3 separate regions of the Homo sapiens genome follow, and regions 1 and 2 are each reported to be linked to region 3. Evidence: microRNA targets listed by miRTarBase, many of them from high-throughput screens and not tested one by one. Region 3 holds a microRNA gene; each other region holds the end of a gene's coding sequence.

Region 1 (10,535 bases), not on the chromosome of region 3:
CGAAAACAGGACGTGCTGGCGCCGGCAGCCGAAGGAAGAGAAAAGCCGACCGGAAGCTGCCGCTCTTCCACAGCGCCCCACCTCGACTGGAGGACGCACAGCGCCGGCCCCATCGAAAGGTGATGCCTTCGCCCCGCCCAGTCTTCCCGGCGCCCGCACCACGCCCGGCTGATTAGTGCGATGGAGCGCAGCGCGTCAGCCTCGCCGGCCCGTGAGGGTGTTTCGCGCCAGAGCCAAAGAGGCGTCCTGGGCAGGCTGATGTCTGCCTTAATTTGCGCTAAATAATGCGGCAACTTTCTCCGTACACGCTCTTTATTCATGTATACATTCACTCATTTATTTATGTTGTCATATGCCAGGCTTGTGCTAGATCCTGGGGAGCTCACAGTCTATCCGGGAAACAGATGACTAAAGCCAGCACAGTGGCTCACGCCTGAAATCCCAGCACTTTGGGAGGCTGAGGCGGGAGGATCTATTGAGCCCAGGAATTCAAGACCTGGGCAACGTAGCCCTCGTCTCTGCAAAGAAAATAGTAATAATAATAGACTTGACTAAAAACACAAGCAGAAGTAATACAGCAAGGAGAGTCCACCATTGGAGACGGATTCAGAAAACACGTTTCCCTTGGAAGTGAACTCTGAGGTGAGATTTGAAGACCCGGTAGGTGTTAACCTAGTAGAGAACAAAGAGCTAAAAATACTTTGGCAAAAGATTAGTTCTCAACATTGCTTGCACTGGGAAGCTTAAAAATAAAACAAAAAAACAAAAAAAGGGCCAGCCATGGTGGCTCATGCCTATAATCCCAGCACTTTGGGAGGCCGAGGCAGGAGGATGGCTTGAGCCCAGGAATTCAAGACCTACCTGGGCAACATAGCGAGACCCTCTACAAAAAATAAGCAAAATAATTAGCCAGGTGTGCTGGCACGCCTGTGGTTCTAGCTACTTGGGAGGCTGAGGTGAGAGGATCATTTGAGCCAGGGAGGCTGAGGCAAGAAGATTACTTGAGCCCAGGAGTTTGAGGCTGCAGTGAGCTATGATGACTCCAGCCTGGGTAGCACAGAGAAATCTCATCTCTAAAATATTAGTAAATAAAATAGAAGCCTGGGTTCCACCCCTATGTTCTGATTTAATTGGCCTGGAGTGCTTCTTGTGCACTGGGAATTTTTAAGCTTCCCAGGTAATTCTGAAGTACAGTCAAGATTGAGAACATTATTCGAGAGTTTGGGCACCAAAAAAATGTATATGTATTGTCTCATGCAACACACACAGAAATGTTGAATTTTTTTTGTTTTTTTTTTTTGAGACGGAGTTTCGCTTTTGTTGCCCAGGCTGGAGTGCAATGGTGAGAGCTCAGCTCACCACAACCTCCACCTCCTGGGTTCAAGCGATTCTCCTGCCTCAGCCTCCCAAGTAGCTGGGATTACAGGCATGCACCACCACCCCAGCTTATTTTGTATTTTTAGTAGAGATGGGGTTTCTCCATGTTGGTCAGGCTGGTCTTGAACTCTCGACCTCAGGAGACCTGCCCGCCTCGGCCTCCCAAAGTGCTGGGATTACAGGCATGAGCCACCGTGCCCGGCCATGTTGAGTTGTTTTTGCAAAAAGCTATAATGGAGTTGGAGAAAGGCTCATATTTTTACTTTACTTGCCTCTGTACTATTTTACTTTCTTACACCTAAAGATGATGGAAAAGTTCTGTGTCTTGATTTTAGTGGTCATTGAATAGATTTGCACATTTTTCAAAATTCACTGAACTGTACCCTTTAACTGTACATGACTTATTGTATGTAAATTTTACCTCAACATAGTTGATTAAAGAAAAAAAGCAAACCAACGAGTGACACTCCAAGATGAGTTTATGCTCCCCACGCCCCCCGTGGCTTGCTGCCCACCTGTGGTAGCTGCGAGAAGCATTGAAGAGGGATAGAGACTGGAGGTTCTGGCAGTCCATGCCAAGGGTAAGAAGGCCTGAGCTAATTAATGAGTGACAGGATGGACACCAAGGAGGGTTAGGAATCCCCCTGTAAATTGTTTGGATGTGGGCTGCAGGTAGGGAATGTGGATTTCAACCTAAAAGACATAGAAAACCACCAGTGGCTTAAACAATGAAGACTGAGAAGTGATCAGATTCTGGGTGTATTCTGGAAGCAGCTCTCAAAGCGCCAATAGATAAACTGGATGTGAGCTATGACGGAAAGGAAGGAATAAAAGATGACTGCCAGGTTTTCAACAGAGCTATTGTGGACTGTGGTGAATTTGTGGAGATGAGAAAAGCATGGAAGCAACAGATTTAGTGGAGGAAATAGAGAAAGTCATTGAGTTTGTTTCAGTCATGTGATATTTGAGGTGCCTACTAGACATCCAGGAAATAACAGCTACAAATAGAGGCGGGAGAGATATGGGTCCTCAGCATTTTATAGAATGTATAATACACAGTATTTGAAGCCATGGACTGGATGAGGCCATGCAGAAGTGAATGGAAATAAGTCCTTAATTTTTGAAATTAACACAATTTGAATATTGCTTAGAATCACAGGATTAGGGCCAGATGCAGTGGCTCATGACTGTCATCCCAGCACTTTAGGAGGCTGAGGCGGGTGGATCACATGAGGGCAGGACTTCAAGGCCAGCCTTGCCAACATGGTGAAATTATGTCTCTACTAAAGATACAAAAATTAGCTGGGTGTGGTGGTGCGTGCTAATCCCAGCTACTCGGGAGGCTGAGGCATGAGAATCACTTGAAACCGGGAGACAGAGGTTGCAGTGAGCCAAGATCGCGCCACTGCACTCCAGCCTGTGCGACAGAGCGAGACTCTGTCTCAAAAAATAATAATAAAAAGAATCATGGGATTAATGTTATAGATTTTTAAAATCACAAACTCAAACTTCTTGATTTTAAGTAACAAAACTGAGACTCAGGAAACATATTTCATCCTAGATCACTAACCTTGTTGGAATCTAACCTGGAACTAGAGTCCAGAGATCTGACACTTAGGCCAGAGCTGTCTTCAAGATACTTTATTTCCAACTCCCCTTTAAGACAACACATTAACAAGACAATTCTAACTGGCTTAAATATTTCTTATATATATAATATATATTCTAATTAATATTACATTAATATAATATATATAGAATATATATTTTATATATATATATATATATATATATATATATATTTTTTTTTTTTTTTTTTTTTTTTTTGAGACAGGGCCTGGTTCTGTTGCCCAGGCTGGAGTGCAGTACTGTGATCTCGGCTCACTGCAGCCTCCTCCCAGGTTCAAGCGAATCTTGTGCCTCAACTTCCCAAGTAGCTAGTAGCTGGGACTACAGGCACACACCACCCCACCAGCTAACTTTTGTATTTTTCATAGAGAGGGTTTCGCCATGTTGCCCAAGCTGGTCTCAAACTCCTGGACTCCTGGTCTCAAGCGATCTGCCTCTCTTGGCCTCCCAAAGTGCTGGGATTACAGGTGTGCACCACCCCCACTCCACCACAATATATTTATAGTAAATTCACATCAAGTCTGTCCTGGAGGAAGGCTTTTTTTTTTCTTTTTTTAGAGACGGAGTTTCACTCTTGTTGCCCAGGCTGGAGTGCAATGGCGCGATCTCGACTCACTGCAACCTTGCCTCCTAGGTTCAAGCGATTCTCCTGCCTCAGCCTCCCAAATAGCTGGGATTACAGGCATGAGCCACCACTCCCAGCTAATTTTGTATTTTTAGTAGAGACGGGGTTTCTCCATGTTGGTCAGGCTGGTCGCGAACTCTCGATCTCAGGTGATCTGCTGCCTCGGCCTCCCAAAGTGCTGGGATTACAGGTGTGAGGCTGGAAGATTTTATCTATTTAGATAGGTGAAAGAAATGACTATAGTCTGTGTTCTAATACATCACTTTCAGTAAACTAACCTGTTTTCCAAAGCAGCAGATTTTGACTGTGACTTGACTTACTAACCCAGTATTGAATATCTAATAACCCACTTGCTGTTTTTAGTGCCAACTGTGATGACACATGTCCATTTACACAACTAATTGAACTAAAAAAACTACTAGGTTACATGGTCAAGATGTCACCTCTAAACAACCATCCTTGTCCCTCTAGTTTTAATCCATATACCTTTTTTTTTTTTTTTTGAGACAGAGTCTCACTCTGTTGTCCAGGCTGGAGTGCAGTGGCGCGATCTCAGTTCACTGCAACCTCTGCCTCCCGGGTTCAAGTGATTCTCATGCCTCAGCCTCTTGAGTAGCTGGGATTACAGACGCGCCCGCCACCACACCTGGCTAATTTTTTTTTGTTTTGGTTTGGTTTTTTTAGTAGAGACAGGGTTTCACCATGTTGGCCAGGCTGGTTTCAAACTCCTGACTTCAAGTGATCCACCCGCCTCGGCCTCCCAAAGTGCTGGCATTACAGGCATGAGTCATGGTGCCCAGCCAGTCCATATACATTTCAAAACCCAGAAATTTCCAAATAAAAAACGTTTTAAACTATTCCAAACACTAAGAAACTTCAATTCCCAGGCCAGGCGCAGTGGTTCTCGCTTGTAATCCCAGCACTTTGGGAGGCCAAGGTGGGTGGATCACATGAGGCCAGGAGTTCGAGACCAGCCTGGCCAACATGGTGAAACCTGTCTCTACTAAAAATACAAAAAATTAGCCAGATGTGGTGGCATGCATCTGTAATCCCAGCTACTCGGGAAGCTGAGGCATGAGAATCGCTTGAACCAGCCCGGGGGGCGGGCAGAGGCTGCAGTAAGCTGAGACTGACATCACTGCACTCCAGCCTGGGCGACAGAGACTCTGTTCTGAAAAAAACAAAACAAAAATTAGCCAGGGGTGGTGGCACATGCCTGTGGTCCCAGCTACTTGCAAGGCTGAGGTGGGAAGATTGCTTGGGCCTGGGAAAGCAAGGCTGCAGTGAGCCCTGATCATGCCACTGCACTCCGACAGGGGCAACATAGTGAGACCTTGTCTCAAAAAAAAGAAACTTTCAGGTCGGCTGCAGTGGCTCACACTTTTTTTTTTTTTTGAGACAGAGACTTGCTCTGTCGCCCAGGCTGGAGTGCAGTGGCACGATCTTGGCTCACTGCAAGCTCCGCCTCCCAGGTTCATGCCATTCTCCTGCCTCAGCCTCCCGAGTAGCTGGGACTACAGGTGCCTGCCACCATGCCTGGCTAATTTTTTGTATTTTTAGTAGAGACGGGGTTTCACCGTGTTAGCCAGGATGGTCTCGATCTCCTGACCTCATGATCTGCCCGCCTCGGCTTCCCAAAGTGCTGGAATTACAGGCGTGAGCCACCACGCCCGGCCTCACACTTTTAATCTCAGCAAATTGGGAGGCTGAGACAGGCAGATCACTTGAGGTCAGGAGTTTGAGACCTGCCTGGCCAACATGGTGAAACCGCCATCTCTACTAAAAATACAAAAATTAGCCAGGCATGGTGGCAATGCCTGTAATCCCAGCTACTCACTACTCAGGAGGCTGAGGCGTGAGCACTGCTTGAACCTGAGAGGCAGAGGTTGTACATCATGCCACTGCACTCCAGCCTGGGCAACAGAGTGAAACTGTCAAACAAAACACAACAAAACAGGCCGGGCGCAGTGGCTTACACCTGTAATCCCAGCACTTTGGGAGGCCGAGGCAGGTGGATCACCTGAGCTTTGGAGTTCCAGACCAGCCTGACCAACATGGAGAAACCCCGTCTCTACTAAAAATACAAAATTAGCTGGGCGTGGTAGTGCATGCCTATAAACTCAGCTACTCGGGAGGCTGAGGCAGGAGAATTGCTTGAACCCCAGAGGCAGAGGCTACAGTGAGCCGAGATTGTGCCATTGCACTCCAGCCTGGGCAACAAGAACGAAACTCTGTCTCAGAAAAAAAAAAAACAACACAAACAAACAAAAAAAACTTTCATTTCTACTTGATATTATTCAACAAATCAAGCAAATGATCAGGGAGATGCCTATCAGTTAAAGACAAAAAATGGCACCAATAGATACAGATATCTTATAACTGTCTTCAAAATATAAATTTGATAATGATCTACAATTACTAAAATTTTGCATGTGTCAGCTGGCTAAATGATTTTTTTTTTTTAAGAAAGAAAAGTAGGCCAGGCACAATGGCTCATACCTGTAATCCTAGCATTTTGGGAGGCCAAGGCAGGAGGACTGCTTGAGCCCAGTTTGAGACCAGCCTGGGTAACATGGTAAGATCCTGTCTCTACAAAAAATCAAAAAATTAGCCAGGCATTAATGGTCCCAGTTACTTGGGAGGCTGAGACAGGAGGATTGCTTGAGCCCAGGAGGTCAATCAAGGCTCCAGTGAGCCATGATTGTGCTACCACTACACTCCAGCCTGGACAACAGTGGTAAACACTGTTTGGAAAAAAAAAAAAGCACCAAAAGAGTAAACATGTGCAATGTGCAATTGAAGACCACTAGTATCTTCTCAGCGATTAAGGAAGTGACAACTTTAAGGATGATTTACAACCCTTTAGATACTAGATTCATTATGGAATCAGGAAAAATGTGTGCTTATAATCTTTCACCCAAATCAGAAGAATAGACTTAAATTATTCTTCATTACCCTGGTTCAAAATGAAATGACAGAAATCAAGACTTAAAGAGTAATTTTTTAAAAAGTGTATGTGTTTTTAATGTCACAAGGATTAACCAAATTAGACTATACAAAAATCTGTAAGGAAATGTAACACCAAGTGACATTAACACTTTAGTCTTATATTCTTTTAAGAAGACAACCCAACAAAATATGGCAGTTACTGAGTTAGTTAAAAGGATATTTATAAGGCCAGGTGCAGTGGCTCACGCCTGTAATCCCAGCACTTTGGGAGGCCGAGGTGGGCAGATCACCTGAGGTCAGAAGTTCGAGACCAGCCTGACCAACATGGAGAAACCCTGTCTTTACTAAAGAATATAAAAATTAGCTGGGCGTGGTGGTGCATGCCTGTAATCCCAGCTACTTGGGAGGCTGAGGCAGGAGAATCCCTTGAACCAGGAAGGTGGAGGTTGCGGTGAGCCGAGATGGCGCCATTGCACTCTAGCCTGGGCAACAAGAGCGAAACTCTGTCTCAAAAAAATAAAAACAATGTTTATAATAACTCATCTAGACCATATTTGGGGGGAAAAAGGACATTTATGCTATTGGGTTGCATGCCTCAATTCTTCACATCCCATTTTGTTTTTGCTTGCTTAAAACATACTTCTAAAAAGTGAAACTCAAATGTAAAAAGTTCCAATTCTGAGTTTGGTATACAGCAATAAAAATTTTATAAATACCTTCCAATTTCACATGTATGAATCTTTTCTTTGATTAAATACTTGTGCTGGAGTAAAAATTAAGATACTAACTCAACAAGAAAAGTTACAATGTGCAGAGTTAACATTAGACAATTCAGTTTCTTTCATTTTATTTTTCAGATGACTTCATTTCTCAGGACAGAATGACACAAACACAAGAAGCAGTCTCTAGGGCTGGCTGAGACCACATTTATCTGTTCTCCTAAAAGCACTAGCTCAGCTCCCAAAAGAAGAATTACAAATCTGAGAAGTTAGAGGAAAGGTACAGAATAGGAATTCTGATTAACAAGAAAAATCAATTAATGACATTGGTACTCTATTCTTCATATCAGTAATAATACAAACTCAGCCCTTTTAAATCAGAGAATCTGCCATTCTATATCTAATAAAGTAGCTTTACAACCCCTAAAGTAAAAGAATTACATGAAGGTGTAAACCAATTTGCCTCCTTTAGAGACACTGCAATATAGAAGAGGATTTTTTTTTTTTTGTAAGCTTCTCCTTCTCAGTTCTACAGGCTTCATGGTACTTCAGAGCCCCAATAATCAAGCAGTTCATGACAAAAGATAAAAGTGAAAAAGTAGACACAGAGATCTGTGAAGACTTCGCCCATTTTGCTATAGGTATCCATTGATCGATTTATCACTTCGGCAGGAATTCCCGACAATAGAAGTGCAGCTGTTAGTACTGTTGTCTTTATCTTCTTTTCACTCTGTGTAGAGAAAGACTCAAATTAATCTTCAAAGTTTCAGCAGGCTACATTAAGCTCTATACAAACATGATCAGTACTGCTGTTTTTAACCGAAATGATTTAAAAACTGTTAATGATGTTTCAAAACAATCAGTAAGATACCAACATTTACTGAGCATATAATATGTAACTCATCAATCTGCTAGGCAATAGCAGACATCAGTCTTGCTTTTTTTTTTTTTGAGATGGAGTCTCGCTCTGTTGCCCAGGTTGGAGTGCAATGGCACGATCTCGGCTCACTGCAACCTCTGCCTCCCGGGTTCAAGCGATTCTCCTGCCTCAGCCTCCTGAGTAGCCGGGATTACAGGTGCTTGCCACCATGCCCGGCTAATTTTTGTATTTTTAGTAGAGACAGGATTTCACCATGTTGGTCAGGCTGGTCTCAAACTCCTGATCTCGTGATCTGCCCGCCTCAGCCTCCCAAAGTGTCAGGATTACAGGTGTGAGCCACTGCACCTGGCCCAGTCTTGTTATTAGAAGTTTTTAAAAAGTGTTATCTTGGAAGTATGACATAAATAACAATTTATGATATATACAACAGTACAATATAAAAACAAGAAAAATATTACTAGACAGGACATAAATAACTGCTAAATGACTGACATGGATAATGTGTGACATAGGAGCTCACAGGAGATATAAATTACTCCAGTGTTTTATGTAAATAAAGCACAAGGAGGACTTCAGAGGAAGTAAAATTAAAAACAGGCCTTCAGGCCAAGTGCAGTGGCTCATGCCTCTAATCCCAGCACTTTGGGATGCCGAGGCTGGGTGATGGCTTGAGCCTAGGAGTTTAAGACCACTCTGGGCAACATAGGGAGACTCTGTCTCTACAACAAATACAAAAATTAGCTGAGCATGAGCCTGTAGTCCCATCTACTCAGGAGGCTGAGGTGGGAGGATCTCTTAAGAGGTTGAGGCTGCACTGAACTGAGACTGCACCACCGCACTCCAGCCCACATGACAAAGTGAGACCCCCGTCTCCAAAAACAACAACTAAAAACAGACCTTCAAAGAAGAGCAGGATTTAGACTGGCAGAAGTGAAAGTTTTTTGAAGCGTTAAGTCTCAGGACAAGTTAGAGGCAGAAGAATGCTTGGAGAACAATGAGTAATTTGTCACAGACTTATAGGAATGTAGGGCCCTAATTGTTATGCAAAGGAATCCACACTTGATTACACATCCAATAGGGTATCACTGAACAATTCAGTATACTTCTGGTGGAAGAGAGAACATTTACTTATTAATTTTCTAGTCTCATTTTTTTAAGAGATTAAAAGCTGAATTTTTCTTTATTATCACAAAATCCAATCATACGGTTTAAAATATTTTTAAATATAAAAACCTATAGTTGGCCGGGTGCAGCGGCTCATGCCTGTAATCCCAGCACTTTGGGAGGTCGAGGTGGGTGGATCACAAGGTCAGGAGTTCGAGACCAGCCTGGCCAATATGGTGAAACCTCGTCTCTACTAAAAATACAAAAAAATTAGCCAGGCGTGGTGGCACATGCCTGTAATCCAAGCTACTTGGGAGCCTGAGGCAGGAGAATTGCTTGAATCTGGGAGGCAGAGGCTGCAGTGAGCCGAGATCGTGCCACTGCACTCCAGCCTGGGTGACAGAGCAAAGCTCCATCTGAAAAAAAAAAAAAACCCTATAGTTACCTAAAAGAAATGAAAGCTTATGCTCACAAAAAGCCTCATACAAGAAAGCTCTTAGTTTTAGTCATAATAACCCCAAAACTGAAAACAACCAGGATGTCCATCTATAGGAGACTAGATAAATGGATATAGTCATACAATGTAGTATTACTGAGCCAAGAAAAAAAAAGGAATTAACTACTGATTTATCCAACAACATGGATAAATCTCAAAAATATCATGCGGAATAAAGAAGGCTTGCACAAAAAAGTAAAATCAAGAATGATCCCACTTACATGGATTACTATGCCAGACACAACTAATCTATCGTGGGAAAAAGTTCTTTGGGGTATAGGGACTGGGACTGCCTGGAAAGGAGCATGAAAGAAACTCCTGGGGTGACAGTGAAGTTATAAACCTTGAAAGAGGTATGGGTTTCATAGGATAACAAACGTATTAAATGGTACAATTAAGACAAGCATTTCAAGCAATCAATTAATTACGCTGGTACCCTACTCTTCATATTAGAACTAATTTTTTTTGTTTGAGACGTAGTCTTGCTCTGTCGACCAGGCTGGAGTGCAATGGCAGGATCTCGGCCCACTGCAACCTCCGCCTTCTGGGTTCAAGCGATTCTCCCACCTCAGCCTCCCCGGTAGCTGGGATTATAGGTACCCACCATCATGCCCGGCAAATTTTTGTAGAGATGGGGTTTCACCATGTTGGCCACACTGGTCTTGAACTCCTGACTTCAGGTGATCCGCCCATCTCGGCCTCCCAAAGTGCTGGGATTACAGGTGTGAACCACTGCACCCGGCCTCAGAACTAATT
Region 2 (9,999 bases), not on the chromosome of region 3:
TGAAAGTAAATACAAGACAAACATTAGATTTTTGCTACCTGTTATCGCATGCTGAGGCTGCAAGCCTGAGACTTGCGCTATTAAAAAGGAAAATCCGGCCGGGTGTGGTAGCTCATGCCTGTAATGCCAGCACTTTGGGAGGCTGAGGCAGGTGGCTCACCTGAGGTCAAGAGTTCGAGACCAGCCTGACCAACATGGAGAAACCCCCATCTCTACTAAAAATACAAAAAACTTCAGCCGGGCATGGTGACACATGTCTGTAATCCCAGCTACTCAGGAGGCTGAGGCAGGAGAATCGCTTGAACCGGGGAGGCAGAGGTTGTGGTGAGCCAAGATCGTGTCATTGCACTCTAGCCTGGGCAACAAGAGCAAAATTCCGTCTCAAAAAAAAGGAAAATCAGAGCAGGGTCCCAGGTCCATAAGCACCAAAATGAGCCTCAGCCCAGACCCGCCTTATCCCAGGATGACTCTGCTACCTCTAGCATGCCGGATAGTGCTGAGCTAGGGGCTGACAGATGGGCTTCAAGCCCAGCCTGGGCTCTGGCTCCAAGAGCTGCTCAGGGAACTCTGCTTCCTTTAGCAGTGACTACTCACTTTGCTTTGCCCAACCTCAGACCCTTTTATATTAATTAGGACTCTCACTGGCAGGTAACGGGAAATCCAGCTCAGACGGTGCTTAATAAAGGTGACAAGGGGGCAACTGGCTGTGTCTGGGGAGGGCAAGCTGCTCAGGGACATCACCAAGGATTCAGGTTTTCTGTCTCCATCCTGCCACCCACAGGGACACTTCATCCTAGGCAGGCACCCCGGTATTCATAGGGTGCCTTCCACTTACCTAACCTGAGAGGTTTCCCCTTCATTCAGTATTAAGAAAGAATCCTGAATTCTAAGCCAACTGGACCATTCCAGAACATCCGACTAAGCTGATGGGCTTAGTCCAAAGCTACCTGGTCAGTCACTGAGCTAGCATTACCCTGGTTGGCTTAGACTAGTCAGGACCCATCTCTGAAGCTCGGGTGAAAGCAATTCAACCCAAAACCGGAAACCAATTCAAAACCAATTCCATGCTACACTCAGAAGGTGCAGAGCGATGCTGAGGACCCAGCACTTCAAAGGAAGCCTTGTGCCATATGAAAACCAGATAAAAGGTGCAATTGCTCCAACTCAGAAGACGAAGCAAGTTCTGAAAAATCTCTTGACTGGTATTCTTTGGAAGCAAGTGATTCCCAGCCCTGGCTACATACTGAAATCACCTGGGGGGGTTTAAAGACAGGTGATCTAAGTTTCCCCCTCCCCTGCTTGGAGATTCTGATGTAATTGGTTTGAGGTGTGGCCCAGCTGATTCCCAGACGGAACTGGTTTAAAGGGATGCGCAGTGAACGTGGGCTACAAGCTCCAGCCTTCCCTTGAATAGTATGTCTGCTCCAGGCAGTTTCCTTTGAGACCACTTATTCTTTTTCCCCGCCACTCAACAAACACCTGCTAGCAGCCTAAGAAGAACCTGTACACTCAGAGATGCAACCTGCATGTAGAAAACCATTTCAAGAGTGTAGACTTGCCCCAACATCTCCTCGGTTCATCCCGGCAACAAGGAGACCGTGGCCTAAGCTGGAATCCTTACCTTCTGGGTAGAGTCCCCACTGCAGCAGCACCAGGCTTGGGGATGCCAACAGAAGACCCGCTCCTCCAGGTCTCCTCCCTTTCATTCACCTCGGCCTGGCTCCTCCAGATGAAACTCCGCCCATTACGTCTAAAACGGAGCATCTCCGTGGAAGGCCCAGTGAGAAACCCCTCCTGGTTGAAGAGGCTGGCCTCGGGTGCTCATGCCTCACTGGTTTGGTTTTTAAGGGGAACCGTATGTTCATTCTGACCAAATATAATGCTTGTGTCCCCTGCAGTCCTCCCCTTAACTGCTTCTCCAAACCCAGCATCATGAGCAGTCCTTAAAGCACACTCTGCCAGAAGGCCCAGCAAAGACTGCAGAGGCCAGCCTCAGACCTGCTGCCCTCCACTCACTCCTACTGCTGCAAGCCTGAAATGCATCAAGCTGATTATCACCTGTAAGAATTTCCAGGCTTTTGAGCCCATAGCAAGCCCAGGGAACTCAGAGAGGAGATTCTGTGACAGCTGCTTGAAATTAGAACTACTTGCAACTCCTTCCAAAGATGTTTGCACTCTTCACCATAATGCAAAGTGGGATTTAGTGGGATTTTGCTTTAAGATGGAGAGGAAGGTTCCTGGAAACCTGTAGCTGCCTGAGTCAACTAAACATCTCCAAGGAGTTGGTAAACCCTGTAAGCAGACATTGTGGGGTACCTGTCTAGCTTCTAACCTTCCCAAGAACTCCCCTTTTTACCCCAAGAAGGAGAGTTTTTATCATAAGTAGGTGTTGGATTTTGTCAAATGCTTATTTTCTGCATCTATTGAGATGATCATGTGGTTTTTGTCCTTTATTAATATGGTGTGGTACACTGATCTTCAGATGTTAAACCAACCTTGCACTCCTGGAAGAAATCCTGCTTGGTTATGGCGTATAATCCTTTTTTATATGTTGCTGGATTCTGTTTCCTGATATTTTCTTGATTTTGCATTTGTATTCTTGTGGAATATTGGTGTAGCTTTCTTACAATGTCTGACCTGGTATCAGTCACCTCCCAAAGGAGAGCCCTGGACAGCACACACTTCTCTAGTGGGACCCCATGCCTCATCCTCAGGGAGTTTGGAATTGGGGTACAGAGGTGCTAGCTAGACTGCCAATTGCTTGAACTGCAGTGACCATCTAGCTGCCATCCTCCACCACATTAAGCTGAGACCGAGATGCATTTCTTCACACACTCCATATCCTTGGAATAAATTTCCCATTGTCTGAGTCTCTGGTTCTACGGATCTCAAATGCAAATGCCCACAGGGGCTAGGCAAGTGAAATAAATTAGTGAAATAATTTGAGTATAAGAAAAGCCTGGAGACCAGGACCCCCCCCTCCAAAGCAACTTGACTTTATGTAGCTCATTGTTTAAAATTAGAATATCTGGCACTAAAAACAGTGGGCTCACATTCTTAAGGCAACAAGCAAACAAACAGGAAATTCAGTTCTTTATATGCATTCTCCTAATTTTTAATTGGTGGCAACTGATTTTAACCATTTTTTTGAATAGGCAAACACCAAAATATCAAAACTTTTAAAGAACAGTGAAAAGGATACCTCTCACCCCAGATATCCACCATTCTCAAATTTGTGTTTATCCTTCCAGAGAATAGTAATGTCTTTTTCACATAGATAATAGCATACCACATATATTTTTCTGCATTTGGCTTTCATATCTTGGCGATGTTTCCACACCAATTCATAAAGAACTCTTAACCCATTTTTACAACATTATAGTATTCCATCATATGGTTGGGCTATAAAGGAATAAAACCCAGATCAATAATCACTTGGGTTCTTTCTAATCTTTTGCTGTCTCACTGTGCAGTGACTAACCTTGTACATTTATCTTTTCTTTCTTGTGTGTGTAAGCTGGATTCCTAGGGGTGGAATTACTGGGTCTGAGGACATTTCCCCCCGCAACCCCCCCTTTTTTTTTTAAGAGATTGGGTTTTGCTTTGTCATCCAGGCTGGAGTGCAGTGGCATGATCACGGCTTACTGCAGCCTCAACCTCCTGGGCTCACTCAAGCGATCCTGCTGCCGCAGCCTACTGAGTAGCTAGGACCATTTCTAATTTTGTTAGGTATGCCAATTGCCCCCCCATGAGAATGGTGTCCCACCATCAATGTACAAGAATATGTTTCTTCAAAATATCACCAGCAAGACCAGGCACAGTGGCTCAAGCCTGTAATTCCAGCACTTTAGGAGGCTGAGGCAGGTGGATCACTTGAGGCCAGGAGTTTGAGACCAGCCTGGCCAACATGGCAAAACCCCATCTTTACTAAAAACACAAAAATTAGCTGGGCATGGTGGTGCGCACCTGTAATCCCAGCTACTTGGGTGCCTGAGGTGGGAGGATCATTTGAGCCCAGGAGGCAGGGGTTGCAGTGAGCTGAGATCACACCACTGCACTCCAGCCTGGGCAACAGAGCAGACTCTGTCTCAAAAAAAAAAAAAAATTCAATAGTGTCATCAAAAATTTTAATCCTTGCCAGCCTGAAATGTGAAAAATCTCAGGGTATTTTTCCATACTTATTGGCATACATTAAGGTTGAGTATCTTTTCATGTTTTGCATTTTCTGTGAAACTCCTGTTCATAGCCTTTGCCTGTTTTGCTACTGTTTCCCTTTTTTGTAGGTGACATTTTTTAGGGAGATTATCCCTTTGTAGCATGAGATGCAAATATATTTTCCCAATTTGTCATCTATCTTTTGAATTTGCTTAGGATTTTGTTGTTTTGGGATTTTTTGGTTGAGTTTTCCGTTGGTTTTGCCATGCAGAAGTTTAAAAATTTTATATAATCAAATTGACCTCTTTTATGGCTTCTCGATTTTGTACACTTCGCCAATGTTTTTAACCTATTTCTTCAATAGATTCGTTTTATTTTACTTTCTAAGACAGGGTAACACTTTGTCACCCAGGCTGGAGTGCAGTGGCACAATCTCAGCTCACTGCAGCCTCAAGTTCCCTGGCTCGAGCAATCTTCCCACCTCCCACCAAGTAGCTGGGTCTATAGGCAAGCACCACCATGCCTGGCTAATTTTTCTATTTTTTACAGAGAAGGGGTTTTGCTATGTTGCCCATGCTGGTCTTGAACTCCTGAGCTCAAGCGATCCACCCACCTTGGCCTCCCAAAGTGGTAGGATTCAGGTGTGAGCCACTGCACCCGGCCAATAGATTCATTTTATACATTAAGCTCCTAATCGATTTACAATCCAGGTGTGCTGAGTGAGGTATGGAGCTCTATTTTTTCCAGAAGTTTACCCAATTGTCACAACATGAAAACATCTTAAAACAATTCAGGGCAAACCACACATTTCTGCCAATCAGATACAACCCCATGGGCTGCTACCTTGAAACCTCTTGCTTTGGTGAGCACGAAGTTCACATCCGCTGGGAAAGTGGGAAAGGGGGTTGACCGAAGAGCCTTGCTCTTGGGAAGAAATCTGCAGTGACCTTTCTACTGGTGTCCCTGTCCAACATCAGCCACAAAAGAAAAAGACTGGCAGGCCTCGGTGGCTCACGACTGTAATCCCAATACTTTGGGTGGCCAAGGTAGGAGGATCGCTTGAGCCCAGGAGGTTGAGACTAGCCTGGACAACATAGCAAAACCCCGTCTCTGTTTAAAAAAGAGAAAGATCAGATCACCCTTTCCTAGGCTGCAGTTACCCTTACCAAGGGGTTAGAGGCCATCAATAGTCAGCAACCGAGGACATCATTGACTGGACAATGGAAATGTCAGGCACTTTGCTTTAATGAGGACGCACATGAAGTCACCTGGCACAGGGACAGTGGAGCCGCTCAGAGGACTGAGGTTAGGGGTTGGTGATGGCAGGGCGCAGTGTCCCGGCCTTCCTTCTCCCCAGATGTTTCCAAGCGTCCCTTAAAGCTCATTGTTTGGCAGTGCAAATCCTAGGAACTTTGGAACGGCTACTTCCAGTTCACTTGTCACCTTTTCCCCATAGATTTCCTGTGCAACCTCACCCCTCCTAACAGGACAGGGAAACCCAGAGAGAGCAGCCTCCATTCTCCCATGACTTCTAACTCTGACACGTAAGGGCAGTCCCTGAGTCACTCGCTGTTCAGGCCCTCGGATGCCGCTGGTCAACTGAGAAACGCAGGACAATCAACCCTTTCCCCATCACAGCCCGGGCCCTGCAACAGCAGCCTCCCATTACTGAGAGCCCCTCGCCAGTGTGCCCAGCATGCACACAGCTCACCTCATGTCACCCTCACCACAACCCATCAGACCAGAGCCATCCTCATGTCTTACCGCAGGGGCAGCTGGACTCAGAGAGAGCAAGTGAAAAGCCCAGCTCACACAGCTAAGAGGCATGGGAGCGGACAGTGCTGCCAGGCAGGCTAACCTCAGGGCCATGCTCCTAGCGTGGGGCCTGTGGGTCCCTGCTTTAGGACACTCAACGTTGCTGCGGCTTAATCACATGGGATTTCCTTCCAACTCTCCCTGGCCCCTGTTTCAGGGGCTGGGAGGAGAAAGAAGCCTGGGAGTGCCCAACACTCAGCAGATACTCACCCTTCCGGAAATGAGTGTCCTCAACTGCTTGTCTAAAAAATTAACATTAGCTTTCTCCTTTTTCTTCTTTTTTGAGATAGGGTCTCGCTCTGTTGCCCAGGCTGGAGTGCAGTGGCACGATCTTGGCTTGCTGCAACCTCCACCTCCCAGATTCGAGCGATTCTCCTGCCTCAGCCTCCCGAGTAGGTGGGATTACAGGGGTGCACCACAGCACCTGGCTAATTTTTGTATTTTTAGTAGAGATGAGGTTTCACTATGTTGGCCAGGCTGGTCTCGAATTCCTGACCTCAAGTGATCTGCCCACCTTGGCCTCCCAAAGTGCTGGGATTACAGGCGTGAGCCACCTCACCCGGCCAACTTTCCATCCAACGTGTGCTCTCCCTGAGCACACTGGGGCATGCAGAGTGTCCAAGCTCCCTTCGATAAAAACAGTCCCAGCCAATACAACACAGCCATGGGAATGATCTACAGTGACACAGCAACAGTGACACCTCCCAAGGTAACATCAAGCCGGTGAGGCCAGAGACAAGAGATGACACACCGTAGGTACACATCCCGTGTGTCCTCTCTTTATACAGAGCACAGAAACAAGAAACTCCAGTCCATATGGTTAGATGTCAGTATGCTGTCAGCCTGGGGTGGGGGTGGGTATGGGCATGGACCAGAAGCGGGCATGAGGGGGCTGCTCAGTGCTGATAATGTTGGTTGCTCAGTCTGGTGAGGCTTAAATAGATACACTCAGTTTGTGAAAAATTTAGTGAACCACTTAGGCACCCCTTTCTGTAATATAAATTATACTTCAATAAAGGTTTGTGCCAACACTACATTTTGGGAGGCCGAAACAGGAGGGTCCCCTGAGCCCAGAAGTTCAAGACCAGCCTGAACAACATAGGGAGACCCTGTCTCTACAAAAAATAAAACAAATTTGAAAAGTTGCCAGGCATGGTGGTGCACATTTGTGGTCCCAGCTACTTGGGAGGCTGAGGCAGGAGGATCACTTGAGCCCAGGAGCTTGAGGTTTCAGGGAGCCATGATCACACCACTGCACTCCAGGCTGGGTGACAGGTGTCTCATTTAAAGAAAAAAAAAATTGTAAAAGTCACCTCAATAAAAAAATGCTGACCGGGCATGGTGGCTCACACCTGTAATCCCAGCACCTTGGGAGGCCAAAGTAGGAGGATCACCTGAGGTCAGGAGTTCGAGACCAGCCTGACCAACATGGCGAAACCCCGTCTCTACTAAAAATACAAAAATTAGCTGGGCGTGGTGGTGTGCTCCCGTAATCCCAGCTTCCTGGGAGGCTGAGGCAGGAAAATAGCTTGAACTCGGGAGGCGGAGGTTGCAGTGAGCTGAGATCATGCCACCGCACTACAGCCTGGGTGACAGAGTGAGACTCCATCTCGAAAAAAAAGAAAAGAGAATAAAAATGCTGACTTTTCCAGAAACAAGGGGTCTACCTATATCTCTGAATTCCAAAAATTGTCTAAACTATTTCCCTGCTTTTCTGTTTTTAATTTTTAAAAACATTTTTAGCCAAGATCTCACTTGGTTACCCAGGCTAGAGTGCAGTGGCACAATCATGGCTCACTGCAGCCTCAACCTCCCAGGCTCAAGCAATCCTCCCACCTCAGCCTCCCAAGTAGCTGGGACCACAGATGTGCACCAGCACGCCAGGCTAATTTTTGTATTTTTGGTAGAGATATGGTCTCATTATGTTGCCCAGGCTGGTCTCAAACTCCTGGGCGATCTGCCTGCCTCGGCCTCCCAAAGTGCTGGGATCACAGACATGAGCCGCTGCACCTGGCCTCTACTCTATCTTGCCAGATTCATTATTTTAGGCTTCCTTGAAAAACTTTTTTGGGGTGTGGGGGACAGGGTCTTGCTCTGTTGCACATGCTAGGGTGCAGTAGAACAATCACGGCTCACTGCAGTCTTGACCCTGTGCATAAGCGACCCTCCTGCCTCAGCCTCCCAAGATGCTGGGATTACAGGCATGAGTCACCTTGCCCAGGCAGATTATCTTGAAATTCTAATGCAGATTTACAGTTCAGTCCTGTATGTGCATAGGGGAATTATGTGTGTGTTCTTGGCTCTTCGAGGAATTCCAGAAATACCCATTGCAGGTTGAAGCCACAGTGAGAAATCCGGAGTGTTAGGACAATAGCAGGAAACTCATCTGCATGGGAAGAAATGTGGGTAAACAAGCCTTTGAAGACCCTGGGGGTCCTAATGACCTCTGCACTCTTGCTGGAAATCCAAAGGCCGGGACTACCCCTCCCTCAGCTGGAGCCTCATCAGCAGGTGCCCAGGATCAGGCCCTCGCAGGTGAGGCACAGGAGGAACCTTCTAGAAAACACTGCACAGGTGAAAAGGAAACTATCACTCCCCGTCATTCTCACACCAGACCAGGGCTGAGCTCTTGACACCTTTATTGGAAGGATCCTCAAGGCTGTGGGCACCGAGGTCTGGAGGCAACAGAAGCAGCATCCACCCACCCACCACAGTGGCAGAGCACACCCCGTGCAAAAACCCATCACAGAGAGAAGGACCATGGAGCCCCTGCAAAGCCATCATGGAGAGAAGGAAAGTCCCCACTGTCCATCAGCCCCGGCCAGGCCTGGTCCCTCAACCCCTGTAGAACCCCAAGCAGGCCGATGTGGGAGGCATCACCACACGTGGGTTCCAACTGCTTCTCCAAACCCTGTGGTCTCACATGAGGCAGGGAGGAAATTTGAAAATGGCAGCAGCCTGGGCACGGAGGCTCCTGCCCATAATCCCACCACTTTGGAAGGCCAAGGTGGGTGGATCACTTGAGCCCAGGAGTTTGAGATCAGTCTGGACAACATAGTGAGACCCCATCTCGACATTTTTTTAAATATTTTTAAAATATAAAATAAACAGCAATACAAAGAAAAAACCCCCAAGCTGCAGTGTGTACACAATGTCACTTTCCAGCGTTCCTGATGGGAAGACCACAAAGCTCACAAAGGCCGAGGGCAGGTGCGGGGGTGGTGCTGTGCTTCCCCGGCGTCCACAGGAAAATAGTCCTCCGTCCTATACAGTGTGGGCAGCTCGTACGTCACGGGCACCGGTGCAGGTGACTTCTGGAATGACAAGAAATGAAGCTCTATCAGCGATTTGGATCCACTTGTTCCATGACCCAGGAATTCCCGGTCTACAAGTTCATCCTGCAGGACTCACACATATGACCAAAGACTCTGAGCTCCTCTGACAGCACTGCCTGTGACAGCCAAAGCCGGCCACCCAAAGGGACCAAGGCATCCATGTCAGGCCCTCTCCACAATGGAATACTCTGTAGGCATCAAGAAGAGCCAGGCAGCCCAGGCGCAGTGGCTCATGACTGTAATCCCAGCACTTTGGGAGGCCAAGGCAGGCGGATCACTTGAGGTCAAGAGTTTGAGGCCAGCCTGGCCAACACAGTCAAAGCCTGTCTCTACTAAAAATACAGAAATTAGCCGGGCATGGTAGCGCGCACCTGTAATCCCAGCTACTTGGGAGGCGGAGGCAGGAGAATCACTTGAACCCGGGAGGCGGAGGTTGCAGCGAGCTGGGATTGTGCCACTGCACTCCACCTAGAAAACAGAGTGAGACAATGTCTCGGGGAAGAAAAAAGAAAAAGCCAGGCAGATCAATATGTTCTGGCAGAGGAGGACTAAGAAAGCAAGGTGAGAAGGGTAGACATGTGACAAAGGGACCTATACCGACACGTGACAGCTCTGCAGGGCCATCTCAGAGCCTGGGTACAGTGGCTGTGGTTGGTGGCATGACTGATTTTTTTTTTTCTTTTGAGACGGAGTC
Region 3 (10,535 bases):
ACTATATCCCCCACTTAGTAATCTCCCTGGATCTAGGTATTGGGAAAAGCTTTTTATCTACAGGTTTTAAAATAAAATTACTGAACATACGCAAATTTTAGGTATAATAATATTTTTTTTTTCAGATCTTCAGATCATTAGATACAAATGATGCTCCTTTAACAGCTATTAAGATGCCCAGTGTGTTTCTTTCAATGGCTTACTTCAATGGTCCTGACCCACATCAATCACTGCCCCTGCCAAAGCCTGGCAGGTCCTCCACCTGCCCACTAAATGTGAAAACCACAGAGACTATCATTTATTGACTAGAGACACATGGGGATCATTAAAAGATACAGAGAGATGACAAGGCATAAAAACTTCATGGTATTTCAGTGATAGATGTCCACAAGAGTAGCTGACAAACAGAATATTTACAAACAAATGGGTCTGGAAAATTATACTACCAAGTAGTGAAACCATAACTCACAATGGCATAGTGACAGGTTAGAACCCCAGGTGTCAAATTTGAAGATGTCTTGGCTGCTGAAGCTTGAACCTCTGTGATACAGGCCTCCAGCTTCCTCTCTGATCTTCTCTGCAGAATCCTTCCCTCACTGCAGCCACCTTGGACCCAACACGTGCTGTGACAATGCCAAGCAGGGCCGGCCTCATGGTCTTTACCCCCTTTTAGTTCCCTGACTGGAATGCTCATTCCATAAATATAATCACTTCCTGCAGGGCTCTGCTCCAGTGCCAGGACATGGGGGAGAGGGTACCCTGTGCACCCAGGCCCTCTCTATCCCTCAGCATGCTCTGTTTTCCTGCTTAGTCCACTGCACCAGACACTGGTTCTACGATACAGAAGTTCACAGAGAAGAAAGGCAAACAGAGCCCCTCCATGGATGGGGATGACCCACACATCAGTTTCTTCACACTGCTGGGACTGCCATCTACATTTAAGGAAGAACAGGCCATGTGCAAGTGACAAGGAGCCAGCCAACCACCTGACCACCACCCCGCTGTCTACACCATCAGAGAGACCACTGTCTAGCCAGATCCAGGTGAACACCAACCCAGCCTCTAGGGTCTCGCTGTCAACTTGTACTTGTGGAGGAATGGATGAGAGATCAGAAAGGGTGTCCAGTCCTAACACTGCTGTTTCATGGGCAACTTCAGGCAAATGACTTAATTAATCCCCACCAAGCCTGCTCTACAGATCTATATAGGCTTGCTTTTTAAAAATGCCACCAGACTCTGATCTAATTCAAAAGCATTTTAAGACTGCATTATGCTACAACATTAATAAAGGTGTGGCTGGGCATGGTGGCTCACGCCTGTAATCCCAACACTTTGGGAGGCCGAGGTGGGTGGATCACCTGAGGTCAGGAGTTTGAGACCAGCCTGGCCAATATGGTGAAACTGAGTCTCTACTAAAAATACAAAAATTAGCTGGTTGCGGTGGCACACGCCTGTAATCCCGGCTACTCGGGAGGCTGAGGCAGGAGAATCACTTGAACCCAGGAGGCGGAGGTTGCAGTGAGCCAAGATCACGCCATTGCACTCCAGCCTGGGCAACAAGAGCAAAACTCCATCTCAAAATAATAATAATAAATAAAAATAAAAATAAAATAATAAAAGTGTTTTAAAAATCCCTTTGAGTAACAGCGTGGACAGAATCAGATTATGCTGAAGAAATAGGATTTTATTAAGGCCAATGAAACCAGTCCTCAGCAAGAGGAGTAGAGAAGATACACATCTGGAAATACACGCAATGCCACCAAGGGGCACACCAGACTCTGCTAGCCACAGGATGGGCAGGATCATTTGTAAATTCCCTGGATAATTTTGCCAGCCAGTTACATTCTGTCCTCCCCCATCAACCCCATACCTTCTTGAGATCCATGGGCCTAAAAAATGAAGGATTAAGTGGTGTGAGTTCTCAGCCAGCCCCCAAACTAACCTACTGTGTGATTTTCAGAAAATTCCTCAACCTCTCTGTGCTTTAGGTGCCACCTAAGAAAACAGCAGCATGCCATCCCATTCTATCTAACAGGTACTCTTTTGCTAATAATGGTGGAAGGTATACTTGGAGTACCATGATGAATCCCTTACAAGAGTTTACCTGGAAGGCATGTGCTCAGGGCAGAGGTTTCCTAAAGATGTCATCAATTCACACTTCCTCTGCTTCTGGGAATAACATTTTCCTTTGTCGGTGTAATGCTGTACGTATTTTTACCACTTAACCCTCCATCACCTTCCCCTAAACTATGGTTCTTAACCTTGATGCACACTGAAACCACCTGGGAGCTTGAAAGTTTCCAATACCCTGGCCCCACTCTTGGAGATTCTGACTTAACTGGGGCTGGGGCTGTGGTGCCCAGAGCTCCCAGGTGATTTTAGCTGGCAGCCAGGGCTGTAAACACATCAAGTGATAAAGGCACCTGCAGAGCAAGGGCTTGCTGAGTGTCAGGCGCCCTTCCAGCTGTGTGATTTTGGAAAGTATCAACTGCCCTAAACCTCAGTTTTCTCATCTAAAAAAATGAGGATAAAAGTTTCACTTCACTTGGTGGTTGTAAAGATTAAAAATCAATGTGTAAAAAAAAAAGTGTATGTATATATATGTGCATTAAGCATTTAGCACAGCACTCAGCATCTGTACATGTTAAATAAACATTAATCGATGTTATAATCAACCTTTCATGGAGTCTTCAGAAACGACAAGAACTCAGGTCCCTGACCTCTGGAAGGCACAGGAGGGAGCTCTGCCCTCCTGTCCACATCACCCTGCATGCCCAGCCTGGGCTGTTCACCAGCACAGAGCAGCAGGGACACCTCATGCCGAGATGAGGGCAGAGGTAAGTCACCTGCAACCATCACATCCTCAAGGTCGGCAGCTCCTGTTAACAAGCACCAACTGGCACATCCAAAACTTCCCAGGTGCCTACAGCAGAGCCACTGTTTCCAGAGATGAGGCAAAGCACTAACAACAATTCATGTAAACATAATAAATGCCAAGTATGTTCCCAGTACCTTTAACATCTCAGTAAGGTTTCTCATCACTTGAGAGACAGCCTCTTTTGTGTCTCCACTTTATAGGTGAGAAAGCCAAGGCTCAGAGGGAGTAAGGCCGAGCTGAGCGCTAAGCACAAAGCTAATGATGGTCACAGAGCAGCCAGGTGGCAGAGCAGCAGTCTTGGCTGAGACGGCACTGTGCTGAAGGAACCTGTTTAAATGATTCATCCTATAGATTTTCCCCCAACGATATGGAAATTTTCCGACCATGATCACAGAAGCCCTCCTTGGACAACACTCAGAAGTGGTGGTATCTCTCAACTTCTGGATTTAATGAAAACAGGAAAACAGGAAGGGAGCTGGGGATATGCGAGGCAATACGATCATGAGGACCAGAAGAGGCTTGGCCAGGGTGGCCATAGGGCAGCATCAGCATTCCCACTAAGTACACTGGAAGCTCACACAAGCACAATTGTTTTAAAATGTGTCCTTCCTGACTATGATGTAGGATATGACTGGATCTCCCGGCCAAGGGAAGTTGGGCCAAAGGCCACACCTAGCTCCTGTTCTCCTCTCCTTTCTGTTGTCAGCTGAGAAAAGAACTGCAACCTAAATCCTCCTGAGGCCACAGCTTGCGGCTGGCCACCAGTCCTATGAGATGGTACAACAAAACCACTGGCTGGATGGGACTCCAGTGGGCCAGCGGGGCCCAGGCTGGCCCCATCCTGGCCTGGCCACAGGAGACAACATGGTTAGAGACTGCTGGCATGCCACTGCAACTAAAATCCATCTACCAAGTAATCATCCCAGAGCAAGTCACTTTAATTTACCAAAGTGGCAAACTGCAATTATTGTTCAAAATGACATTCATTCCTGTATGACAACATTTAATACACTCTAAAAAAAGTTCCTTAATTGCATGCATAATTTAAAATTACTGTAATTTGTTCAAGATCCTGTGAAAACCGTTTTCCCCCCTTGAAAGATAAAAGAAACAGAAGGATAATGAAAAGACTTAAGATTCTATAACCACATTATAGAAATAATTTCGGAGATGGTGTAGATGTAGGTGACACTGGAGTTTTACAAAACAAAGTAAAAATGATTAACTCTTAAAATCGCACATACGTTAAAGAGCAAAGTTTATAATCTCAGGAGGGCCATGCTCATTACACTATTATGCAGTACCTTTAAATTTACTGTCTTAAAAACTTGTACTCAACAGATGTTTCCCATTTACTTATTTCCATATTAAAATAAATTCTATGCCCAGAAATTCATTAACATATGAAAACATATTGCCATTTTTATTCTCATCTTTCTTATGATTATAGAATTTTATTAGTTATGGAGAAGCCGAGAGATACACTCTTAGCTGAAATGAAAGATGAAACAATGTGAGTGATTCGGGGGGAAGACCTGGCTCCCTAAACTGACCCAGGGCTTCCACAGGCAGCCGGGTACATCAGGGCCTGAAGCTGAAAGGCCTGGACACTGTCTCTGTGGCCTTAACAGGCTGCTTGGCCTCTGTGTGCTTCAGATTCCCAGGCTACATGAAATCAGGAAGAAAAATCTACCTTAAAAAGCTGAGTGGAACATCATGACATGAAAGCCACTGACCAAGAAGTGAAGAAGCTCTTGGCTCCACAGAAGGCCATGCTGATACCCTTTCCATAGGCAGAAATATGGATACATGAAACCTCGATGTTTGTTTTTCTGTGTACTTATCTCTATGCATCACCCATCCATGCTTAATTTCCCATGAACTCTGAAGAGATGGTCCAGATTAGTAACGCAGGACACTTAAAAAATCCGTTTTCCCTAGAAATCTCTCTGATCTTTGATTTCTTTTGTAAATTGCTTCCTTATCACATCTGCTGTGAAACAGTCACCACATGTGCTCAGAGCAGCCCTGACCACCCACATCTTCCTGCCAAAGAAAAGCTAAACTTCTGGAAGAACGAGTAATACAGCACCCAAGCCCGTGTGATCAGGGAAGCACATCTTTAGAAGCTCCTCTGCGTCCTCTCACCACCACCCAGGGCAGAGGGAAACAGGGCTGTTGGAGGAACGGCCAGCAGCCGGCCAGGGCTGGGTCTCCGGCTCTCTGTGCAGAAGGTTGCTCACCTTCACGTTGGGAGTATAGAGATTCCTGAGAGAGGCCAGGGCGGCGGACAGCCCCTCGGTGCTGTAGCCGATCCACAGGGCTTGGAGATGGCTTGAAGAAATTCCCGTCTTCTTACTGAGGCCCTGGAAACAATCGAGACAGATCTTGGAAACAATCAGAGACAGATCTGCCTGAGCATCTCCTTCCCACCTGCAGGGTCACTCTGAAAGTGGGTCTGCCGCAGAGGGTGCAGATACCTGCAGAAGGCACGGGGTCACACACAAAGAATGCCTGGACATGCGAGCTTTCACTACCTGAAACCAAGGGTCAAGGAACCAGCCTGCCTTCACTAGGTTAACTTTGTGCCTTGGGAGAGAGATGGCAGATGAGAGTTTCTCTTTGAGTCAGAGTCTTGCTGTGTCGCCCAGGCTGGAAGTGCAGTGGTGCAATCTCAACTCACTTCAACCTCCACCTCCCAGGCTCAAGTGATTCTCATCCCTCAGCCTCTCAAGTACCTGGGATTACAGATACATGCCACCACTCCCAGCTAATTTTTGTATTTTTAGTAGAGACAAGGTTTTACCATGTTGGAAGTAAATTAGAGGAAGAATAAATGACAGAATTAGAATATCACCATCTGAGCCCTGCAAGGTGGAGCGTGCCTATAGTCCCAGTTACTTGGGAGGCTGAGGCGGGAGGATGGCTTGAGTCCAGTAAGCTATGATCCCACCACTGCTCTCCAGCCTGGGCAAACACAGTCAGAAAGTCCAGGTGGTACAAAATCACACAGGTCAAGAAACTCAGGTTCTCGAACAAATCAATAATAAGGAAACAAAAAGTAATGAACAAAGTGGAACCTTTAGATAAAAAGAAACTTATCAGAGATTTAAAGGTGGAAAGAAGTAAAACTTAAGCACAGCACTCTGATATACACTTGAGCAATCAACTATAGCAAAATGCAAGGAAATGCCCAGGCTGAGTCAGAACAGCGGTTACTTTTGGAGAGGGGAGGCAGGAGGAGGTTGCATTTGGGCTGAGGTGCATGGAGCGTTTCTTGGATGGCTGACAGAGCTGTCTAAAATCTCCAAAGCAAAACCTCAAAATGACAACAAAGAAACCCTTCCCCAAGTTGGTGTGCATCTCACCTTGAAAATGTGCGCCTTCAGGATGTGGTGGCCAAGCTCCATGGTCTGCTGGCGGTTCAACTTGCCCTCCTGACGCGAGAACATGAATGCCAAGAGCGCGTGCCCGTTCCTAGGGGAAGGAATACAAAGGCTCACAGCAGAAGAGCCCATTCCACCACACCGCAGACCCACCCTCAATTCACCACCCATTGCCTTAGTCACTGATTTATGCCCGTGACAAAGATGTAAACTCCGGGAGGCTAAGGGTCTCATCTGAGTCATAATGCCTAGCAAAGTGCTGAGCACTTGGTGAACACTCAAATGTGTTTCTGGAATGCATGCATGAATAGACACAGAGCACAGAACCATCCCTGGGCCTAGCCTTCAGGTCCCCTCAGGATCACCACCACTAGGGGTAGACAAAGGACAAGGTCTCACGTGGGAAGGAGAGAAAAGCCAGGCCGTGCTAGGTGACAGCTCATGATCAAGAAAGCAGAGAATTCTAGGCTTGGATGGCACACAAGTCCTTGTGGTGAGAAGAAGGCTAAGGCATCTAAGTGGGTTTGCTGTGGCTGGCACATGGTGGACATCCAGCCAACAGCACCCATTTCCCTTTTGTGAAGGTACCATCCTGCCTATTTTCCTGCCCATTTCCCTTTTGTGAAAGGGCCATCCTGCCCATTTGCCCTCCATGTCCATAGGACTCACTCTGTCTTCCTGTGGATCCCATGCCTTTGAGCCAATTAGTTTCTAAATGACACACAGAGTTGCTTATTCCAATAGGAGTGACTTCTATGCAATGTAAATTACTTTCATTTCTATCATCCTGTCAACTTTGAGCTGTTTGGTTGGGGAAAAGCAGGTAGTTGTGGAGGGAGGAAAAGATAAACATTATATATGTTTTAAAACGCATCCTCCTAGTAGTTGCTAATCTAGATGATTAAAAGCATGCATTATTTAAACTGCATTTGTCTTTCCAGGTGCATGCCTGCTTCTCAAATAGGTTATAAACCGTGTTAGAGATGAGGAAATCAAGGCAGATGGAGGCCAAGGAATCAGTTTTTATACTACAGGGGAGGGCATGACGTTTAAGGCCACACTGCCCACTGAGTCTCGTCCATTGTCTTGTAATGGCCTGAAGTTTTCCCACGAGCACATGCCCTGTCATTCCCTGAACACCTTCCATGTCCCAGATCTTGAGCCTGGGATTCCCCTCCTCCCTTATTCCCATGGAAACCGCTGTCAGCATCTCTCTAGTGCTCTAGGCCCCCAAGGCCTCCCCAGGTCCTACCCATGGGCTGATCCCAGGATTCATTCTGGCCCAGTTCATGTCAGTTGGGAGCCACTCTCCCAACCACAGGCTAAGTCCTCCTAAGTCTCCCAGTTGGCTGAGCTCTGTGGCCAGGCCAACCGTGTCCATCACAAAGACACACTAACTATCACTTTACAGGGTGATGACCACACACCCCTTGGTGGCCGGGCCTAAAGTTTCCAGTGCTCCCAGCTGAGCACAGGGCATCCCACCTCTCTGAGGAGACAACTCCCCATGCCACTGCTCCCCACCTATACTCCTGCATACCCTGCCCATAGTTCCTCCCTGCCCTCCTGTTCTTGAGACCAAGCAATCCCCTTCTAAGACAATCTGCATTCATGATTCTGTTAATTTCCAAAGCTTCCAGGTATCAAGCTCTTACTCTATGCCAGATGCAGAAACCTAATTGAATTATCTCATTTACCTGCACAATCCTGTGACTAAGTACTATGACCCCCATATGCTTATATGAAGAAACAGAGGCCTGAACAGGTTAAGCGACTTATGCAAGACCACATGGCTAGATGACAGAACAGAGATTTGAACTAAAGTTGGTCAGACAGGAGAGCCTGTGCTCTTAACCTGCGGAGCTTGAGTCCTCCATTCATTCACAGCTACACCTTATCACTGGCACCACGTCTGACGGGGGGATTCTATGGGGGAACAATGCAAGGTGCTTCCATTGAGAAGCTCTAAGCAATGGGAGGGGACACGCAAACGATATGCAAGTCAGTTAACTGGGTGCTGTGAACAGATTCCACGGGAACAAAGAGGAGGCAACCTGCCCCGTCACTCAGGCCCCGGTCCCTCCTCCTTACATTCCCAATTTCTCCTTCTTTATGGATCTTTCTCCACACTATCTCTCAGTGATGTTTCTGACAATGTTCCAATCTCCTGTGTTATTAAAAAACAAACAAACAAACAAAACCACCCGCCCCCTAAGCCCTTCCACCTCCCATCCCAAGACGCTGGCTCCCTCCTCTCTCTCCTCTCAACCCAACAGGCGGAGTCTCCTAAGGATCCAGGACCCTCCTCCCTCACTGAAAATCCAATGGCTTCCTCTTAACCGTCATTTCCCTTCACCTCTTGGCAACACTTACATCCGTAAGGTCCCTCCCTGAAACCCTCCTCCACGCCCTGGAAGCCCAGTGCTATCTTTTCTCTAATGACATGAGCTTCCTCACCGAGTCATGCCAGACACCTCTCCATCAGTGATGCTAGATCTTCAACTGTCAGCTTCTCCTCCAACCTGCCGACCCGCCCTGGCGCTGGAACCTGTCTGCCTGGGACAGACGGCTATCTTGCAATCTCAACTGCTGAAAACTAAAACCAGCTCTGTCCCTGCAAAGCCTGCCACATACCACCTGCCTTTCTTACCCTTCCCAAGAGCAATGCCACACCTAGTTTCTGGCTCTTCTTCCTCTACTCTGCCCATGAGGCCAAGCCACAAGAGCTACCTCATGTCAGCAAGGCCCGTCTCTAACCCCAGTCCCCCCAAGTCCCCACTCCTGACTGCTATAGTAGGCCCTATACACTCTGTGCCCTGCACACTCCCTTCTGCCAGCTCTTTCCTCTCCTCTGTTCCATGAAAAAAGGTCAAGTCAAACTAGATTTGCTGTTGCAGAACACGGCCTGCTCATTCTGATGCGACGTCTTCAATAGCTCCTCCTGTCTGCAACAGCCTTGTTCTACCTACTAATACCTATTAACTCCTCGAGTTAACAGAGAACAGAGCTAATAGGGGACTGTTCCAGATGAGACTTCCTGTGCAACCCCAAAAAACTGATGGATCTTAAAAATGGTCATCAGTGGCTTCTAGTGCCTACAGAGACATGACAATGTCATGCGCCTCCTGAGAGAGGTACTCACCACCACCTACTAAGTGTCCTTGTTTAAAAATATAGAATCTGAACAAGCCTCTAAACTTCACTACCAATTTATAGGAAATAGGGGTGAGAGGAACACATGAAAAAACATGAGGACACAAAATTCAGATGATGGGAAACTATACAGGATGAACTACCCAGCTGCCCTTTTTAAACAAATAAATTTTGAGGAAAAAGAAAAAAAGATGAGGAGAGAAACTATAGATTAAGAGAGATAATCGAATGCATTTTATGGACTTTTTGGATCCTGATGTGAACATACTAAAAAATAGAAATTTGAGCATGGCTAAATGTTTAAGATTATTAAGAATTTGCATTAATATTTTAGGTGCAGTAATAGCGTGGTTAAGTATGAAAATATCTCTAAGATGAATATTCAGTTATTTAAAGTAAAATGTCATGTTTACAATTTAACATACTTCAACAAAAAAAAAGGAAACAGATGTAGCAAATATTGCAAAATGTAAATATGTTTAAGTCTAGGTGATATGAATGAAAACTCTTTCTTTTTTTTTGAGACAGTTTTGTTCTTGTTGCCCAGGCTGGAGTGTAGTGGCACGATCTCGACTCACTGCAACCTTCGCCTCCTGGGTTCAAGCAATTCTCCTACCTCAGCCTCCCAAGCAGCTGGGATTACAGGTGCTTGCCACCACACCCGGCTAATTTTTCTTTTTTTTGTATTTTTAGTAGAGACTGGGTTCACCATGTTGGCCAGGCTGGTCTCGAACCCCTGACCTCAGGTGATCCACCCATCTCTGCCTCCCAAAGTGCTAGGATTACGCACGTAAGCCACCGCACCCGGCCAGACTCAAACTATTCTTTATCTTCATAATTCTATTTCTGGAATGCTAACCTAGGGCATAATCAAAACTAAGAGAGAAGAAAGGAAAGAAGAGAGGTAGTACATCGTCTTAAGATCTGATTTAATAGCTACCAGCACTCAGTGAGAAGACACTCATTTTTTATAGATAAGGAAGGAAGGCATGGAGAATTAAAATATATTTCATGCAGAGAAAAATATACAAGAATCAATGGAAGATTTGAATCCAGACCTGCAAGGCACCAAGACATGACAGGTTGTTCTGTTTGTAAGTAATTTAGAAACAACTTAA

The links. Region 3 holds the annotated microRNA hsa-miR-6888-3p (AUCUGUCUCGAUUGUUUCCAG, at 5,245-5,265, opposite strand). A microRNA usually pairs through its seed, bases 2 to 8, with sites in the 3' UTR of a target mRNA and lowers its output. Matches are read on the target gene's strand: a 7mer-m8 pairs with bases 2 to 8, a 7mer-A1 pairs with bases 2 to 7 and ends in A, and an 8mer does both.
Region 1: the mRNA of CAMLG is a reported target of hsa-miR-6888-3p. Seed matches in the 3' UTR shown: 7mer-m8 at 7,083-7,089.
Region 2: the mRNA of BCAS4 is a reported target of hsa-miR-6888-3p. The part of its 3' UTR that is shown has no 7-base or 8-base seed match.

What each region holds. Positions count from the first base shown.
Region 1 is chr5:134,748,253-134,758,787 of GRCh38, reverse strand. CAMLG (calcium modulating ligand) reads right to left here. Exons shown (of 4, transcript NM_001745.4): 4 at 6,631-8,029. The coding sequence ends at 7,838. It overlaps DDX46 (DEAD-box helicase 46), which reads right to left and starts at 9. Exons shown (of 23, transcript NM_001300860.2): 1 at 1-9. RefSeq lists an enhancer at 1-234.
Region 2 is chr20:50,875,771-50,885,769 of GRCh38, reverse strand. BCAS4 (breast carcinoma amplified sequence 4) reads right to left here. Exons shown (of 5, transcript NM_198799.4): 5 at 8,593-9,284. The coding sequence ends at 9,162. LOC124904929 (a long non-coding RNA gene) reads left to right here and starts at 9,759. Exons shown (of 2, transcript XR_007067647.1): 1 at 9,759-9,999. RefSeq lists enhancers at 5,389-5,888, 5,889-6,390, 9,049-9,629.
Region 3 is chr2:159,181,611-159,192,145 of GRCh38, reverse strand. It overlaps MIR6888 (microRNA 6888), which reads right to left and starts at 5,311; the gene lies at 5,245-5,311. TANC1 (tetratricopeptide repeat, ankyrin repeat and coiled-coil containing 1) reads right to left here. Exons shown (of 27, transcript NM_033394.3): 15 at 6,247-6,355; 16 at 5,122-5,244. RefSeq lists a cis regulatory region at 6,459 and an enhancer at 6,375-6,544.